Regions from separate parts of the Homo sapiens genome. Here region 2 is linked to region 1. Evidence: fine-mapped expression QTL. A gene starts in region 1. The other region holds a variant in brackets. All regions are shown on one strand. Distances are from middle to middle. Region 1 holds the start of VWA2 (von Willebrand factor A domain containing 2). Region 2 overlaps ABLIM1 (actin binding LIM protein 1).

Evidence for each region. PIP is the estimated chance that this variant, and not a neighbour inherited with it, causes the effect. A credible set is the group of variants that fine-mapping cannot tell apart.
Region 2: its variant is the best candidate, but not a certain one, in a credible set for the expression of VWA2 in pancreas (GTEx, PIP 0.80).

Annotation. Positions count from the first base shown.
Region 1 is chr10:114,236,616-114,241,006 of GRCh38, forward strand. It overlaps VWA2 (von Willebrand factor A domain containing 2), which reads left to right and starts at 2,639. Exons shown (of 14, transcript NM_001272046.2): 1 at 2,639-2,954. RefSeq lists an enhancer at 2,550-3,258.
Region 2 is chr10:114,428,888-114,433,269 of GRCh38, forward strand. ABLIM1 (actin binding LIM protein 1) reads right to left here. Exons shown (of 23, transcript NM_002313.7): 23 at 2,225-4,382. Among named protein-coding and RNA genes, the nearest start is that of AFAP1L2, 27 kb to the left of the region's middle. The variant T/C (reference allele first, on the strand shown) is at 2,095.

The DNA.
Region 1 (4,391 bases):
CTCCCTTCCAGTCATATATGGGAACTCCGCTTTTAAGATTTCTCTGGATAATTTAAGGTCAGGAGTTCGAGACCACCCTGGCCAACATGGTGAAACCCCATCTTTACTAAAAATACGAAAATTAGCCGGGCCTGGTGGTGGGCGCCTGTAATCCCAGTCACTTGGGAGGCTGAGGCATGAAAATCGTTTGAACCTGGGAGGCGGAGGTTGCAGTAAGCTGAGATCCAGCCACTGCACTCCAGCCTGGGCAGTAAAGCGAGACTCAGTCTCAAAAATATTTCTCTGGGGTCCCCTTGGACAAGAGGGGGTCCTTTCAGTCAGTGGAGGACATGGGGTTTTATTTCTGAGGGCATTTACTGTGTGCAAGTTACCAGGCATTGGGCTGCAAAGATGAATAAGGCAAGCTCCTGGGAAGCAAGAAGCTTACATGCCCCTTAGAATGATTGTAATTCATAATAACTTTATTTTTTAAATCCTTGTAAATCTTCACAAAGGAAGGGATGTCATGGATGACAAAAGTAGCTACCCAGCTTTCTGCATAAAAAGCCTCCACCCCTGCTGGTCACCCACTCAGCACTCAGCACTCACCAGGGCCTGCACCACCTGCCTTCCCTCCTGCCCAAGTGCACACCCCGGACAGACTGATTATACATTGATGTGAAGAAGTCTGAAGCAACAGGTATCTTCACTGTATTTATGCTTTCAGTTCTTCATAATCACAGAATGAAAATGTGAAATACCTCCCCCCCCCCCGCCCCCAATTAAAGACATGCCAAATACTTCAGGAACAACCAGGATTGAAATTTGGCTTCTCCAAGGTAAGCCTGATAAGGTCAAAGTATGCTGGTACCTGTTAAACAGCATAAGGGGTACAGGGAGAGGGTTGTCAAAGGTAGAATTTCCACTTTCTTGAGGACCTGGGGTCTGCCCTTGTTGGACATCTCTGGAGCAGCACAGGCCACTCACCCCATTTGACTATACAGCACTTAAAAATGTGGCGAGTCCAAATTGAGATGTGCTTGTGAGTATAGAATACAACAGGATTGGCCAGGCGTGGTGGCTCACGCCTATGATCCCAGCATTTTGGGAGGCTGAGGCGGGTGGATTACCTGAGGTCAGGAGTTTGAGACCAGCCTGGCCAACATGGCAAAACCCTGTCTTTACTAAAAATACAAAAATTAGCCGGGCATGGTGGTGTGCACCTGTGATCCCAGCTACTCGGGAGGCTGAGGCAGGAGAACCATTTGAACCTGGGAGGCAGAGGTTGCAGTGAGCCAAGATCATGCCATTGCACTCCAGCCTGGGCAACAGAGTGAGACTCTGTCTCAAACAAAAAAAAAAAAAAAAAAAACAAAAAAACAGGACTTTGAAGACAGCATAAAACATCTTTATTGATTACATGTTGAGATAATGTTCCGGATGTTTAGGTTAATACTGAAATCCAGCTTGCTGTTTCTTTTCACTTTTTATTAAATGTGACCACTAGAACATTTAAAATTACACACGTGGCTTGGTCAGTATTTCTCTGGGGCAATGCTGATCTAGAGGCAGAGACCATCCCTCCCCAGCAGTTAGACCTCAAGACTAACTGCTGTCCCCTGTGGGGATGATGTGGTGGTACATTATGTCTGCTGCTCTGGTGTGGCCCTGTTTTTATTTTTGGGTGCTCAGTAAATGTTACTGGGAGAAATGAATTACAGGAAAAATGAGTCCTTTCCTAGCCTCCTTCAATGAGGTTTGCAACATTAAAGTCACCACGGGCCACTTTCACTGGAAGCTGTCAGTGTCGGAGGTTTGGAAATTAACTGAGAACTACAGACAGGAAAGGTGTAAAGCAAATTATTTTCCTATCAGATTGACATTTACAAGAATAATGGGAAGGAGCATGGAAAAGAGGAAGCAGGTCAACCTTCCTTGAGGACAATTAGATAATAGGCATCAAAAGTCTTAAGTTGTATAAAACCTGTATCCTAGAAATTTACCTTTTCGTAGTTTATTCTAAGGAATTAATTGGACAAAAGCACAAAGACATCTAATTGTATTATTAAAATGGAAAGTTTAATATTCAACAATAGCAGATAGGTTAAGTACATTAGGACATTATGAAGTGGCTTAAAACGGACATTCAAAAAAAGGAAATGGAAAACCTGAGTAATGTACAGCTTGTATGGAATGAACTAAAAATATATAAATTTTTGCATAGGTAGAATGACATTGGAAGAACATACACCACAATGTTAACTGATTATCTCTGGGTGTTGGAAAATGATTGATTTATCAACTTTTTTACTGTTATTTCTTTTCTTTTTTTTTTTTTTGCAATGAACAGGCATGCTCTGGCAGTTTTTAAATGAAGTATGGAAATTATGGATTGTGCAGTCATAGTCAACGTTCATTGAGAGCTTACTTTATATAAAGCATCATGCTCAGCATTGTGCTTTGTGGCATTTGATTTTTTAAAAATCAAACGCCCTCCAATCTTAAGCAAGGATGATGGCCAAAAGGTCGGCTTATTACCCAACTGCAACAATAGGAGGGACAGGTAATTAAAAGGCAATTGCCATGACAAATAGAAAAGATGCCAAAGTCAACATTTTTTCAAGGAGCTATAAAGCCCGTGGAGGAGTCAGCTGACGGCACAGTGTTCGCGGCTGCACCGCTCGGAGGCTGGGTGACCCGCGTAGAAGTGAAGTACTTTTTTATTTGCAGACCTGGGCCGATGCCGCTTTAAAAAACGCGAGGGGCTCTATGCACCTCCCTGGCGGTAGTTCCTCCGACCTCAGCCGGGTCGGGTCGTGCCGCCCTCTCCCAGGAGAGACAAACAGGTGTCCCACGTGGCAGCCGCGCCCCGGGCGCCCCTCCTGTGATCCCGTAGCGCCCCCTGGCCCGAGCCGCGCCCGGGTCTGTGAGTAGAGCCGCCCGGGCACCGAGCGCTGGTCGCCGCTCTCCTTCCGGTGAGTCCCAGCCCCGAGTTGGCTCTGGCGCCCGGGTACCCGCCAGTGCCGGCTGCCGATGACCGATTCACGCTCCCGGTACTGGGGCCCCCTCTGCCCAGCCACCCCTACCCAGAGCACCCGGGCTGCGCGGCCCCGCCGAGGGTGCGGGCTTTGTTCGCATTGTCTGCGCGCACCTGAGCGCGGCCTTCCTGGCACGGCGGCGTCGGGGGAAGAGCGCACCTGGCGCGCGCCTCCCTCGTGGCCACTCGCGGTCCGTCCCGGGCGAGCTGGCGGGGTTTTGGGAGGGGTGCGGTCAGCAGGTAAGTGGGTAGGGGCTCCGGGTACAGGGGTGGAGGAGGGCATGTATTAAACCCAAGCTGCCCTCCTGGCACAGTAGCGGGGCCCCCTTCCCTGGCGGCCGCGGAAAGGGACTCGCCCTTTGAATAAAGGCTTTGGTGACATGCTCGCTTCCACCCCACACCCCACTACAGGACATACACAGGTGTTAAGGGGACTTGGGGCAGTTTTCCCAGGCAGAACGAGTGCCCCCAGCGAAGTGTCTGCAAGCAGAACCTGAGAGGGGCCGGCTGCCCCGAGAGTCCTCGCGCTTGGGCAGTGGGAAGTCCAGGGGTTTGTCGTTCTGGTGACTTCCCCCACCTGGCTCAGCCCTGCTTCCTGCATGTCTCCTTCCCTTCCAATAAGGCTAACAAAACTTTCCCTAGCTAAGCCGACCTTTCCCTCCCGCCTTGGGCCCTTGGCCACCTGCTGGGACGGTGAATGGGAGAGTCTCAGAATTGAACCTTGAAAACTTGCTGGGGGCACCAGACAGAAGAGAAGGGAGGAGGGCACCTTGCTGCTTGTGATTGTGGAATCAAGGGCTCCAGCTGAAGCTGAAAGGGGACTTAGCAATGGGGACCTCATGCCATGTGTTTGATGTCTTGGAGATTGGAATAATTAGAACGTGTACATTTTTCAAATTACAAGCTGCTTTAAGTAAAACCCCAGAACCTCTAAGTGTTTTATAAATTCAGTCCCAAAAATTCAAGGTCTCTTTTGCTGTTAAGGTGACACTATATTAAGAAATGTCGATTTATTGAAGAGTCAGAGAAGTGAAGAGGTCAGAAAGGTACCACTAGAGTTGGCAAAAGCCACAGGCATGAATTTGTAAATGCTGCTGGCTTTCAGCAGGCTGAAGCCATCCTCTCTTGTGACTGATGGGGGTTCAGAGCTCCTCAGGCCTTACTCTTCTTTTGTAAAATCCAGCCCAGAGCCATCTCCTAGTAGTGTAAGAATTTCTCAGACTAGGTCCCCAGGCAAATCCCAGGTTGGAGAAGAGGATTGCTTTCCTCATCATCTCTGGCTGAAAACCATCAGTGTATTTTCATTAAATCTGGTTTTTGGTCTACCGTACAGAGATTACAGCCAGTATTTCCCCTCTCTTCAATAGGCACAAGC
Region 2 (4,382 bases), 190 kb after region 1:
ACCCAGGCAGCCTGATGCTATACCCTGCACTCGGCTGCTGAGTAATACTTCTGGTTATTATTACTACTAATTAGCACATCTTCAGGGGATCTCTATCTTAGACTATGCTTGGGTGGAGAGAGTGCTGTTGTTGAAGTATGTAAAAGAGGTCGTGGGATTATTTTAATCCTGGAGTATTTATATAAAGACTAGAAGGAGAATCCATGAGGAAGGCCCTGTGAACACAAACAAAATGACTAGAGGGAGGGGTAAAAAGCCCAGAGTGAAAACTAATTCATTCTCAAATGATTATTTAAAATAATACTAGTCCTTATTCAACCACCTAAGTGCTCACGTGCTATAATTTGGCAACAGTCTTTTGATGGATATTATTATCTTGTCCATTCTGCAGATGAACAAATTGAGGCTGAAGAGAGGCTAAACGGGCTCCAAGACACACAGACAGTGAGTAACCCCCAAACTGTTCATAAATGCGCCTTGGTGGTAGTGTTGGGGCTCATGGCCACACTGAAGGGCGCTGGCCGGTCTCACACTAAGAACCCATTCTGTGCAGTGTGCCCTGGGAGATTCAGAATGTGGGACACAGTCCTTGCCCTAAGAAAGTCACAGGGAATGGGATGTGGAGGATAACAGCATGGGATCTGAAAAGGGCAGACCTGGAGAATTCTAGCTCTGCTGCTCACTGGCTGAGTGATTGGGCATGTTTGATTAGACTCTGAGCTTTGGTTTCCTACCTGTATAGTGGAGCTACAATTGTCTACTTTGAAAGGCTCTCACGAGCAATATAGTTATGCCAAGCTAGGGTGCCTGGCGCTCAGCACAGAGATCTCACTACAGTTCAACTGAAGAGCAGAAACCCACGCAGCTAGCAGTTCGAGGCAACACTTGCTAAGTACCGACCTTGAGGTTCAACTAGAGGCATGCAAAGAATTACATGCAGATTGGGCTGGGCCCATTAAGACAGGCTCATAGAGAGGGTGTGAACTTGGACTTGTCTTTAATTTGGAACAAATGGAGCCCATGGGAAATTCACATGGGTAACTCCAAAGAGCTGATGGGTAGCTGTTTTTAAAGAGTCAACATTGATCATTACTTCCTTTCCCTGGGGCCAGGTCCTCTCTGCTCCACCACCTCCTTGAAGAGTTGAGCATCGTAAAGAAGAAATACCTTTGATAAAGCTGCCTGGGAGGGAGCAAGCATGGTATGTCCTGGGAACTTGCAGTGGTTTGGCAAGATCTGAAGGCAGGGTACTGGGGGAGAGGCAGCTGAGCAGTGGGTGAGGCGAGATCCTTCCACTCCCAGCAAAGGCAGTGTGAGATTCGCTGACTAAAGTCTAGCAACTGAAGTGAGGCACGGGTCAACTTCCATTGGAGAGGTGGCCACCAGAGCCAAATCCCACAGAGAGTTCATAAGGACTGGAGATGACCCCTAGCTATGGTAATTATGGACCACAGCAGGGATGCTTTCCCACGGGTGGAGGCAGAGATGAGCAGAACACAGACCTTGAGCTGAGGTCTCCCGGCCTGTTTTCCATGGTGGTGAACTAAAGATGCCAACTGTCTTGAAAACAACCTGCATCCCGCTTCCAGGGGAGGGTCATGTGAATGCCAGTGTGACTGGGTCTTGGGTAGTCTCAGCAGACACAGAGCAGAAGGAAGGCTATCGTTGGAGTGGGCCATCTTGGACATAGATCCTTGTACTTTCTGGCAAGCCTAAAATCTTGGCAGTGATGATAACAAGGAAGTTAACATCTACAATTTCTTCATGTAAAGTTTGATCATGCAGGGGATGCCCAAAATTGGAAGGATGCTTTTCTCCTACTGCATTCTAGCTTCTTACTAAAAAGTGGCCCACACTCATAGTGGCTCAGAAGCTTCAAACCTCCTCAAATCCCCAGCTTTGTCGAAATGATGGGACTATCCCTGCTGTGTCACAAACCAAATCAAACACCTATGACACAGCACAGTGTAATGGCTCTACTAAACATTTCTTTCCTTTGGACAGCTTGGTCAATATGGTCTGGGTTATTGGACACACAGTCCTGGAATATCCTGCTGTTATTTGCTGCATTTTTCCACCTGCATGATAAAAATG[T/C]ATTCCCACAGCCTTGGGTTCATTCTGATTTTGTTTTGATTATTGGAAGTTGCGTTGGTGCTTTTTAAAATGAGATAGACCTTCAAAGGGAGCCAGGGAACGAGAAATGAAACACAGGTATGGAGGCATCTACGAATAAAGCACACAACTTTATTCACGAAGTTGTGAGTATGACAGTGATGCAGAGTATATGACAAAGGAGTGCAGTGAGTGCTGCTGGCAACAGGAGCGGGGAGCAGGTAGGGATCACAGGCACAGCAGCGCGGAGCCGGCAGGGCCACCTCCTCCTCTACACACAAGCATGTGGCACTTAGCGCGCCAACACACACCTGCTCAGTTTCACAGGGAACACGACACAGCTTTTCAAAAGGAATTCTTCTAAACATTTGCTTTCATATTTCCAAAAGGGGAGGGAGGGCAGGAAGAACCACACACCTTCCAACATTTGAAAAAATTCCATAAACCCAACTTAAAATCAAAGAACTCAGAGAGCTTCAATGCGGAGTCATCAGCAACTCGCAGGAACCACACACATGATTGGACAAGTCTGTACATAAAACCCCAAAAGAACATCAGTTTTGTGGACAATGGTTTCCTCTGCTGTAAAGAAACGTATGCATATATGATCAGTAAGCAGCTCACATCTTTCTGAATGTCAAGGTCTACAGGATTGTCTCTGTCCACCTTTGGTCAATGGGTTCAGGAAGTGACTCATGGGAACTGCACTCTTAGGAGAAACACTTTTGGGAATAATTTTATTGAATAACAACCACCACTCAATTACACTAAGCTTCAGAAATTGTTGGATTTGTTTAATTTTGCTGTGTACCTATACATTGTTTAGAAAGTTTCTTTTGGCTTAAACTGACCATTTCCCCCCTTCTTTTTGAGTTTTCCATGATTAAACTTGCCCAAATAAAAACATAACAATCCATATGCAAAGCATATCTGCCACCACCTCCCACTGCTTCCTGGGCCGCAAACAGAAAAATAAACAGTGATTAAAAAAAAATGCCAAAGTGAAGGTTTCTCTTTCTTCTATCACAACATAGTTGGGTAGTTCCCTTAAAGTACATCATTGCTATAAGTTGGTATCACTGCAAATCTCAAGTCCCAAATAATCTCTTTTTCTGGATAGAAAGTTATTCAAAAGGGAGCACAAAAGAGCAAGCTTTGGGGCATACTGACAAACACTTCATTGGTTAGAAGAGAATAATTGTAAAAATCAAATAAAATTGAGGCTGGCATAGGAAGTACAGATTAAATACAGGTTAAATAGCTACCAGAAACACAGAAGAGGTGGTTAATAAAAACTGAGATTGCTTCAGAGGACACAGGAGGGTTGATGAGACAGTCTATTTTCCTTCCACCATCTTCCATGAGAGTCAGGAAAAGGGTTCTGTGAGCACCCAACCTGGAGCGGTCACCTGTCTCTTCCATACACAGGAGGATGCTAAGACCCAGTTAGCTTTAAATGGTTTTTAGAAAGACTTACCTAGTCAAAAGTGGTTAATTTGAACTTTTCAAACTTGCAAAAGCATATACATTTGATATCATCATCTGAGAAGCAATTCTTAGAAAAAAATGTTTGCTTCAATGTCTAAAGAAATCCAGTGAAAGTTTTAGAAACATTGCCAGCTAGACGTCTCCGAGTTAGAGTTGATTGATATACTGGATTGGGATGGAGAGGATGAGAACTGAAAAAGAACTGCTCCAGCCTCTGCCTCAGAAGAGGAAACTCAGCTTGGAGATGACAGAATTGGGTAGCGGAGTAGATGCTAGAGCCCATGACAGATAGAAAACTACCCCCATTTAAAAAAAAACAACAACTCATTAACTCTATCTCTTTGAGGTTTTGGAGAACAGGAAGTTTATGTGAAGTTATTGAACACGTCATATTAAGAACATTTCATAACTAACCCCAAACCAAAATGTAGATGCATAGCTAGCTGTGCAAGTTTCCCAATGCTCTTCCTATCTCCTAATAAGTCACACAGAAAGACTATGTGATAGCCTGGATTTTCTTGAAGAAATTTTAAAAGAACTGATTTTCCTATCATCATTGAGGCCCCTTTTACTTCATGCCATCATTATGCACTTAAGAGTCCCAAGGAAGTCAAATGTTCCCAAATGTAGCCCTTTACATCGGCACCAGGGAAGCCTGCCATATATACAATCCCCTTCCTAGGGTGAACAAGCTCCACCAGTTTGAGTGTGTTAATAACTGGAATTTTCATGTATAGTACAGGGTAGGGTAAAAGCAGACCAATAGCCATCTTGTGTGCTGT